Linked DNA regions of Homo sapiens: region 1 is linked to region 2. The links come from fine-mapping of genetic effects on gene expression. A gene starts in region 2. The other region holds a variant in brackets. All regions are shown on one strand. Distances are between the middles of the regions. Region 1 has its middle 4.7 kb from the start of HPX. Region 2 holds the start of APBB1 (amyloid beta precursor protein binding family B member 1).

The links. PIP is the estimated chance that this variant, and not a neighbour inherited with it, causes the effect. A credible set is the group of variants that fine-mapping cannot tell apart.
Region 1: its variant is the best candidate, but not a certain one, in a credible set for the expression of APBB1 in whole blood (TOPMed, PIP 0.78).

The regions. Positions count from the first base shown.
Region 1 is chr11:6,443,487-6,447,878 of GRCh38, reverse strand. No RefSeq gene overlaps it. Among named protein-coding and RNA genes, the nearest start is that of HPX, 4.7 kb to the right of the region's middle. The variant G/A (reference allele first, on the strand shown) is at 2,007.
Region 2 is chr11:6,417,183-6,421,574 of GRCh38, reverse strand. APBB1 (amyloid beta precursor protein binding family B member 1) reads left to right here and starts at 2,481. Exons shown (of 15, transcript NM_001164.5): 1 at 2,481-2,590. RefSeq lists silencers at 2,114-2,513, 2,524-2,713.

The sequences.
Region 1 (4,392 bases), 26 kb before region 2:
CCCGTTCACCCTTATGCCCCTTGCACCTGGCATGATGGCTGGCAGAGAAAGCACTCAACAAGATTTGGGGAACGTTGGATCTGGGAAAGTTGATCATGAGAGGTCATGGAAAAGATCAAGACATCGATCTGGTATAGCACAATTCTGGGGCTAGGAAAAGAGGGACTATCCATGGATCTGTGGAAGACCATGGGGGCTTTGTAGAGAACAAGGGGGTCCCACTTGGACTATATGGAAAGTCTTGGTTATGCTTACCTCCCTGGTCCTCTCTGCCCCACTAGCTGAAACCTGACAGATAGGCCAGGCACAGTGGCTCACGCCTGTAATCCCAGCACTTTGGGAGGCCGAGGTGGGTGGATCACCTGAGGTCAGGAGTTTGCGACCAGCCTGGCCAACATGGTGAAACCCTGTCTCTACTAAAAATACAAGTATTAGCCAGGCATCGTGGTGGGTGCCTATAATCCCAGCTACTTGAGAGGCTGAGGCGGGAGAATTGCTTGAACCTGGGAGGCACAGGTTGCAGTGAGCCGAGACTGTGCCACTGCACTCCAGCCTGGGCAACAAGAGCAAAACTCCATCTCAAAAAAAAAAAAAAAAAAAAGAAACCTGATAGATAGGTGGAGGGACCGATGAGCTCCCTGAAGATTTTAGTGCAGGTGCTCTTATGGAGCCTGCCCCTCTGGCTCTGATTGTGAGTGGAATTGCCTAAGCCCATGCCCTGGTCAGCCGAGATGGTGTGCTCAATTATCAGTCGCTCAGCACCAGTGGAGTCCTCCCCGAGAACTCTCAGGTGATGGTCTATTTTTCTGCACCCCTATCTTGAGCAAGGCACCAGAAGTAATACAGAATGGAAACTCAAAGCTTCCAGCCCTCAACCTGTCACATGTTTACATTGTGAACACCTAAAAGTAGCAGGGGAATAAAAAGGCAGTAAGGGTGACCTTCCTTGGGCGGGATGCTGCAAATGGCTCTTCTGCTAGCCCAAGAACAGGCTGCTAGGGCTGATTTCCATAGATTCAGATTAGGTAGTCTTCCCATGCCATGGAAAAGGTACATCAAGGTGGAGTCATTCTGTTCCTTCTAAATCCAGCCGTGGTGGGCATTTTCTTTCCAATTCAGGCCTTGGGGCCAAGTAGATGAAAGTAGTGCCTGACAGTGGAGGCCAAGTCTGGAATGATTGTCACAGATTTGGGGGTCACAGCAAAGCCCCTGCTGTCAGAATGTTATTTTGTGGTCCTGCAAGGGTTCACACTTTGCTCATATAGGGCTGTCTGGTGACCAGAACAGCCCTATGGCCATTTGTGGTCTGCGGGTTCATTTATTTATTGAACAAGTATTTGTTGAGCACTTAATATTAGACAGAGTAATGGGCCCTGGGAATACAGAGAAATGGTCCCTGCCCTTATTAAGCTTATAGTCTAGTGGAGAAGGGAGACAAGTAAGCAACAAGGAACTAAATGTGTAATAACAATTTGAGTTCAAGCTGTGAAGGAAATGAACAGAATACAATGATAGACAATATAGTGTTAAATAGAGTGGACAAGGAAAGTCTCTTTAAGCAGTGACCTGTAGGGTTGGAGCAGGGTGGGTAGGGAACTAGCTGTGTTAAGAAAAGGAGATAGAGATTTTCAGACAAAGGAAAAACAGGTACAAACATCCTGAGGGGTTGAGATCTTGATGTGTTTGAGAATCTGAAAGGAGGCCAGGGTGACTGGAGAGGAAGGAGGGTGGAAGGAGAGAGGAAAGGAACAAGTTTGGAGAATTAGGCCTGACTTCGATCATTTAACTAAGATAAAGAGCTTGGATTTGGTCTGGAGTATGACAGTAAGCCACTGAAAAGTTTAAGTGATAAGGATGAAAGGGATGCCCTGTGAAACAAACTTTAAACTGGGCAGTGATTCTGTGGGGTAGGAAGAGAATTGAGAAAGAAAATCAGAAAACAATTCAACTTCTCTAAACTGTTCCTCTTGAAGACTGTGTATACATTAGAATTACAACTGACTTCG[G/A]CCAGGTGCAGTGGCTCCCGCCTGTAATCCCAGCATTTGGGAGGCCAAGGTGGACAGATCACAAGGTCAGGAGATTAAGACCATCCTGGCTAACACGGTGAAACCCTGTTTCTACTAAAAATGCAAAAAATGAGCCAGGTGTGGTGGCAGGCGCCTGTAGTCCCAGCTAATCGAGAGGCTGAGGCAGGAGAATCACTTGAACCCAGGAGACGGAGGTTGCAGTGAGCCGAGATCGCGCCACTGCACTCCAGCCTGGGTGACAGAGTGAGACTCTGTCTCAAAAAAAAAAGAAAAAAAAAAAAAATTACAACTGACTTCAAGAAAAAATTTTAAGCAGGAGCATAAGGTGATCTCAGATACGTTTTTAAAGATCACTGTGGTTGTTATAAAGAATGTGTTGTAGAGGAGCTATTTCAATGGTCACACAAGAAAAGGTGGTGTTTGCATTACTAAAGAGGCAGAGAGAAATGGACAGATTTTATGTATAATTAGGAAGTAGGAATAATAGGATTCAATATTTATTAAATACATACAGTATTTCAGGCGTGTTCTCAGTGCTGAAGATATAGCAGTGACTAAAGCAGGTAGGATCCTTGTCCTGTACACAAAGGCAGCATGGTAGACTGTGGGGTGCTGGAGCTGGCTCATGAGAGCTGATTGTCAAATTTAGAATTTTGAGAGCTGGTTGTTAAAACACAGCTATTATTAAAAATCAAACTATATAAACTTAAATACATTCTATTAAAACCAAAGATAATCAGTACTTAAAAGTAATCACTTCCTAATTATTTTACTACATTTTACTATCCCCTGTGCTCTTGTGATTATTTATATCTATCATATCTGTATGGTAGGAATATTGTATGCAGTGTGTTACTGTACATCCCTTCCCAACTCTACATTTGGTGATGTCTTGTCGGTAGCTTAAAGTTGGCCATGGTAGGAGTATTTATATCACAAAAATCTGCAAATGTTACAAATCAGTGCTTTTTCCCCCTAGAGAGCAGTTGTTAAATATTTGCCAGCGAACCCCTTGATAAGAACACACTATCCTTGTAGGAACACACCCCTAGGAGTCAGGCACCCAGGGTTTAAATCATGGCTCTGCCACTTGCTAGCAATGTGATTTGGCTAAGATACCTAATATTGGCTTCCTCATTCATAAAACGGGACTCATAGTGCTACCTTTGTCTGTTTGTGCTGCTATAACAAAATGCCCATGACTGATGATTTATAATGAACAAAAATGTATTTCTCACAGTTCTGGAGGCTGGGAAGTCCAAGATTAAGGTGCCCAGCAGGTTTGGTGTGTGGTGAGGTCCTGGTCTCTGCTTCTATGATGGCATTTTGAACGCTGCATCCTCTAGAGGAGACAAATGCTGTTCATCACGTGGCAGAAAAGCAGAGGAGAGAGAATCCACTTCTGAAAGCCCTTTTTATAGCAGCATTAATCCATTCATCGGGCAGAGCTCTCATGACCTAAACACCTCTCATGAGGCCGCACCTCCAAACACTGGCACATTGGGAATTAAGCTTCCAACACATCAATTCGGAGGGGACAGAAACATTCAAACCATAGCAAGTGCTATATACATGCTATATATATATATATATAGCACTAAGGCCCATTATAGACTGAGCAAGAGGAGGGGTCAGCTGGGATCAGCAAGCTCTTTGGCTGCCTGGAGCTTTATCCCTAAGCCTCCTACCCCTGAGGAAAGGAGACATTCAGTTCCTGCTCCCTGGAGTATACAGCCACAGACTTCAGGCCCAGCACACCTAGCACTCAGTGGGCCCAGGAGAAATGGCTAAGGTCAGAGAACTCATATCAACAGCAGAGCAGGCTGGACATAGACATAGCCATTCCAAGGGACAGTGGGTCAGTGTCCAGCTTACATCTGGCTCTTGGCAATGCAGGAGGAAGCTCTGTCATTTGCAGACATTTGCAGGTTCGTGTTCAGACCCCTTCTGGGAGAAGTAAAAAAGCTGCTGGTTAGGAGGATAGAGAAGACTACCCAGGAAAAGAGATGGTTGAATTTCTCTGGGCTCGAGTTCCCAGAGAAGCAAGAGATTGAGGTCCCCAAATCCACTCTGGGCAGCAAGGTTTGCAGAAGAAGGGAAAGAAGCATAGAAGGGTGTGTACCACTAAGGATGCACAGCCAGGGCTGAGAGGAGTGTGGGACAAAGGCTGTGGAGAGCTAGTTTCAGAGAGGAAAAACTCCTGGGCTCTGGCCTCTAGTTGAAGGGCGGGAGTGCACTGATTCCTGCGGCCTGCAGGGGGTGCTCAGGCCCAAGTACCGACAAGCTTCTTTCCTCAGCCCCAGTAGGAAGCCTGGGAAGGACCCAGGACCCACAGAAGGGGCCTCCTGTAGTGAGGGGAAGAGAA
Region 2 (4,392 bases):
GTAATTCTCCTGCCTCAGCCTTCCAAGTAGCTGGGACTACAGGTGCCCGCCACCATGCCCAGCTAATTTTTTTGTGTTTTTAATAGAGATGGGATTTCACCATGTGGACCAGGCTGTTCTCGAACTCCTGGTCTCAAGTTGATCTGCCCACCTTGGCCTCCCAAAGTGCTGGGATTACAGGCCTGAGCCACCACGCCTGGCCATGCCACACACTTTTAAATAACCGGATCTCACAAGAACTCACTCATCATGGGGAAGACAGCACCAAGCCATGAGAGATCCACCCCTACGACCTGAACACCTCCCACCAGACCCCACCTCCAGCATTGGGGATTACAATTCAACATGAGATTTGATCAGGGACAAATATCCAAACTATATCAACACCCATACTGACCTTCCTGTATTTCTCCTGCTACTTGGAATACTTTTCTCTTCTCCTGGCTGACCTCTAGCTCCTTCATCCCTTTCCCTCACTGAATTGTCACTTCCTATGAAAGCCTCCTAAACTTCCCAGGCCAAATTAAGCCCACTCACATAGCTCCCGGTACATCTCCTTCAAGACACTCATCACATTCCTAATTACATATTTAATGTCTCTTTCCCCTGTTAAATTTCAAGCTGTATGAGAGACGGAACTGTATCTTGTTTCTTGACCTGTTGCTAGCACCAAGGACAGTACCTCATACATAGTAATTATTTGATGAAAGAAAATGAATGAATGAATGAATGAGGACACTTTTGTTCTTCTGGGTAATTCTTCTTCATCTTTCAAGAACCCAGGTCAGATGTCATTTCCTCCAGGTGAGATGCAGTCAAATCTGATTCGTCTTTAGATCCCTAGGGCCTGGCTTGGGACCTGATACATGGTTCATATATCATAGGCATTTGTCAAATCATTATAAACTATTGGTTGTGAATTCATAATTGTTGAAACTGAATGATAGGTATATGAGGGTTCATTATATTGTTCTGTCTGCTTTAGTATATATTGGAAATTTGCCATAATAAAAAGTTAAAACATTTATATTTACCACAAGTAAAATAAAAGTATATTCAAAGATGACTTTGAAGCTTCTGGCTTGGGAAGCCAGTAGTTGGTGTCATTCATTGGAATGGATGGAATGGAGTTGTGTCCAGTGTGGGATGTGTGTTGTGTTGTGTGTGTTGAAGAGGGTTCTTTTTCACCCCAGTGAAACTCCTTAAAAGACTAATAAAGGGGGATGAAACAATAAATTGAGGCTGGACACTGTGTCTGACGCCTGTAATCTCAGCACTTTGGGAGGCCGAGGTGGGAGGATCGCTTGAACACAGGAGTTCCAGACCAGCCTGGGGAACACAGTGAGACCCCCTCTCTACTAAAATACAAAAAGCCAGGCGCGGTGGCACATGTCTGTGGCCCAGGTACTCCGGGGGCTGAGGCGGGAGGAATCTGAGCCCTGGAGGCTGAGGCTTCAGAGAGCCATGATCTTGCCCCTGGGTGACAGAGTGAGACCCTGCCTTGAAAGAAAGAACGAACTCAGATTTGGATATCTTTAGTTTTAGGCACCTGAGAGGGATTAGCATGTAGAGGCTTTCTGGATGGTAATATAACCTCTCATTATCCTTGATGGCCTCTGGGTCACTGATCTGACCATTGGGATGTATCCCACTATCCAGGGAGGGTCTGTAGTAAGTATTGCACCCCACCATCTTCCTTACATCTTTACACTTTTCATTCACAATATCCCCTTCCTTGTGAATTTCTACCGGGGAGCAATGTATTCTTGACATTTTCCAGGCCTTGATGTCAGCTTTATGCTCAGCAGCAGAGGTATTTCAGTGTCAAGAAACATCGGAGTTCCAGTCTAAATTCATCACTAACTGTGACTGCGGGCAAGTCGCTTTACCTCTCTTAATCTTAGCCTCAGCCTCTGAAAAATGAGGATAATAATTCTGGTGATTTTACAGAGCTGATGTGAAGATTAATGCGCGTTAACGGTTTAATAGAGAGCCCGGCACGGTGTAAGTGGTCAATAAATACGAGCTATTATTATGAGCAACGCTGTGTCCTCAGAGCCTCCCCACCAGGACGTCAGGGAGCGGTGCAGCAGGAGCGGCGCAGAGTGCCTCCCGGGAATCCTTCCCCGCGCGGCCGCGGCGCCGCACAGCCGCCGCCATTCGGGCTCCAGCCCCGTCCGCGCGTCTCCCGGCGTGGGTGCGGGACCAGGGCGCTGCGGGGCGCGCAGGGTGAGTCTGTGGAATAGTAGTGGAGGACGGCGCCGCGCTAGGCGGGGGTCCCAGGGAGTCGGCTGCAGGGGTGTCTGCTGGGAGGGCTGGACCGCGGGGCTCACCGAGGTCCGAGGGCCGCCCGCAGGGTGAGGCCCCCAAGAAGCTGCGGCAAGTGCCGCGCCCGCCGAGCTCGCTCCCGCGCCCGCCCCAAGATGGCGCCCCTCCCCCTCCCCTTGCGCGCGCCTCCGCCGCTCGGGGCGCGGCCCCGCGGCCCGCGCGCTCCTGGGCGGGGGATGTTGTGATGGAGAAGCCGCGGCGGAGCCCGAACCCCGCAGCCTGAGCCACCTCCGTCATCTGGGCCCGGGGCCTCACCGCGCAGGTAGGAGGTGTCCCTGCCCCGGCCCAGCCCCGGTGGCTGCGTCCCGATCACCAGCGGCCGGCGGACCCTGTAGCCCCTACCCTGCGGCAGCCCGGGTCCCCCGGCCGGCCCCATCCCCCATCCCCGGGTCGCCCTTCCACCGCGCGCCCGCAGACCGTCCTCTCATACCCACCATCGCAGGGTCCACTCGGGCCCTCACACCGTCCCTTCCGCTGCCCTTTACCTCCTGCCCCTCGGGGTGACTAGGGGCGGGTATGGAGGACGCGAAGCGAGGGGCAGTGGGTGTTGGGGGAGGGGAGGCCCAGGTCCGGGAAGGGGACGTGGGGTGGGGTGGGCTGGCAGGCCGCGCCGATTCCAGCAGGGGTCCCAGGCCCTGGATCTGTCAAGCCGCATTCTGTTGCCCTCAGCGACCGAGGGGTGTGCCCTGGGGCGGCTGTGTCCCCAGCTCAGCCAGGAGGCCTAGCACTGCCAAGAACACTGATTAGAAGCAGTTTTCCCACTGCCAATTCCTAACCTGTTTTGTATCGGCCTGTGTATCTCTTGCATTCTGAGCCCCTCTAGCTATAGTCCCAGCTCTCTCCGCCCTTCAGAGTCAACGCTTGCTGTCTTCATTTCCTTACTTCCCATTCATTCTTAAAAGCACTCCACTCTGTGTCCCTGACACCCACTGAAACTGTCTAGGCCAAGGTCACCGGAGACCTCCTTGTGGAGAACTCCAGTGGACACTGTTATCTCCTTTACCTTTGAGTAGTATTCGGTGGGGTATGTCAACTCACTCTCCTTGAAGCATTTTCCTGCTTTCTGCCCTACAGCATTGTCTGCTCTTCTCAATCTCATTTGCTTCCTCTCCTCCTCTCTTTAGATGCTGGTGAGGCTCTTGGCTCTGTCCCGAGCTGTCTTCTCTCAGTATCTGTTCTTTCTCCCCAGATATTTTATCTACTCCCAAAGCTTCAAATTTCATATATATGCTAATGATTCCCAAATTTATATATCCAGCCCAGACTTCTTTCCTGAAATCCAGACTCATATGTCCAGCTGCTCTCTTGACATCTCCTTGAAAGACAAACAGGAGTTCCAAACCTATAGATTCCAAGCTAAATTATCTTCTGTGGTTTTCTCTGTACCCCACTTCCAAATCTGTTCTTCCTTCGAATCTCAAAAATGGCTCTTTGCCAATCTGGAGTCATGAGCAAGACTTGAGATTAACCCCTCTCTCACTCTCTGCATCTCATTTCACCAAGTTCTGTCACATCCACTGCCTAAATATTTCTCAAATCCATTCATTTCGCTCTTTCCTCACTGCCACCAAAGTTAATCTGGGCCACCACCATTTTTTTTCCTTGACTACTTTAATAGCATACCCTCTTGCCTACCTCCCTTTAACTGTTCTCAACACAGTACCCAGAGTAATCCTTTGAAAAATGCTTCCAATCACTTATTCATGCAATAAATATGATTTCAGCACCTAATATATGCCAGGCACTGTGTTATGTCCTGAAGATATAATTGTGAGCAAAAGAGACTGAGTCCTTGGAGCTGACAATCTAGGAGAAAAATCAAATAAGAATAACATTACAAATGTAATATGTACCATGAAGAAAAGCTGTATGGTGCCTTGAGAACGCACAAGAGCAGTAGCTAAACTGGTCTCGGGGATAGGGAGAGAGGGTTGGAGGACAGCTTCTCTGAGAACATGACGTTTGAACTAAAATATAGTGGATGAGTAGAAGTTAATTCAGCTTAGAGAGTAGGAGAAGAGGTCCCAGGAAGCATGGAAATCACATGCAAACACCTTGTAGAAG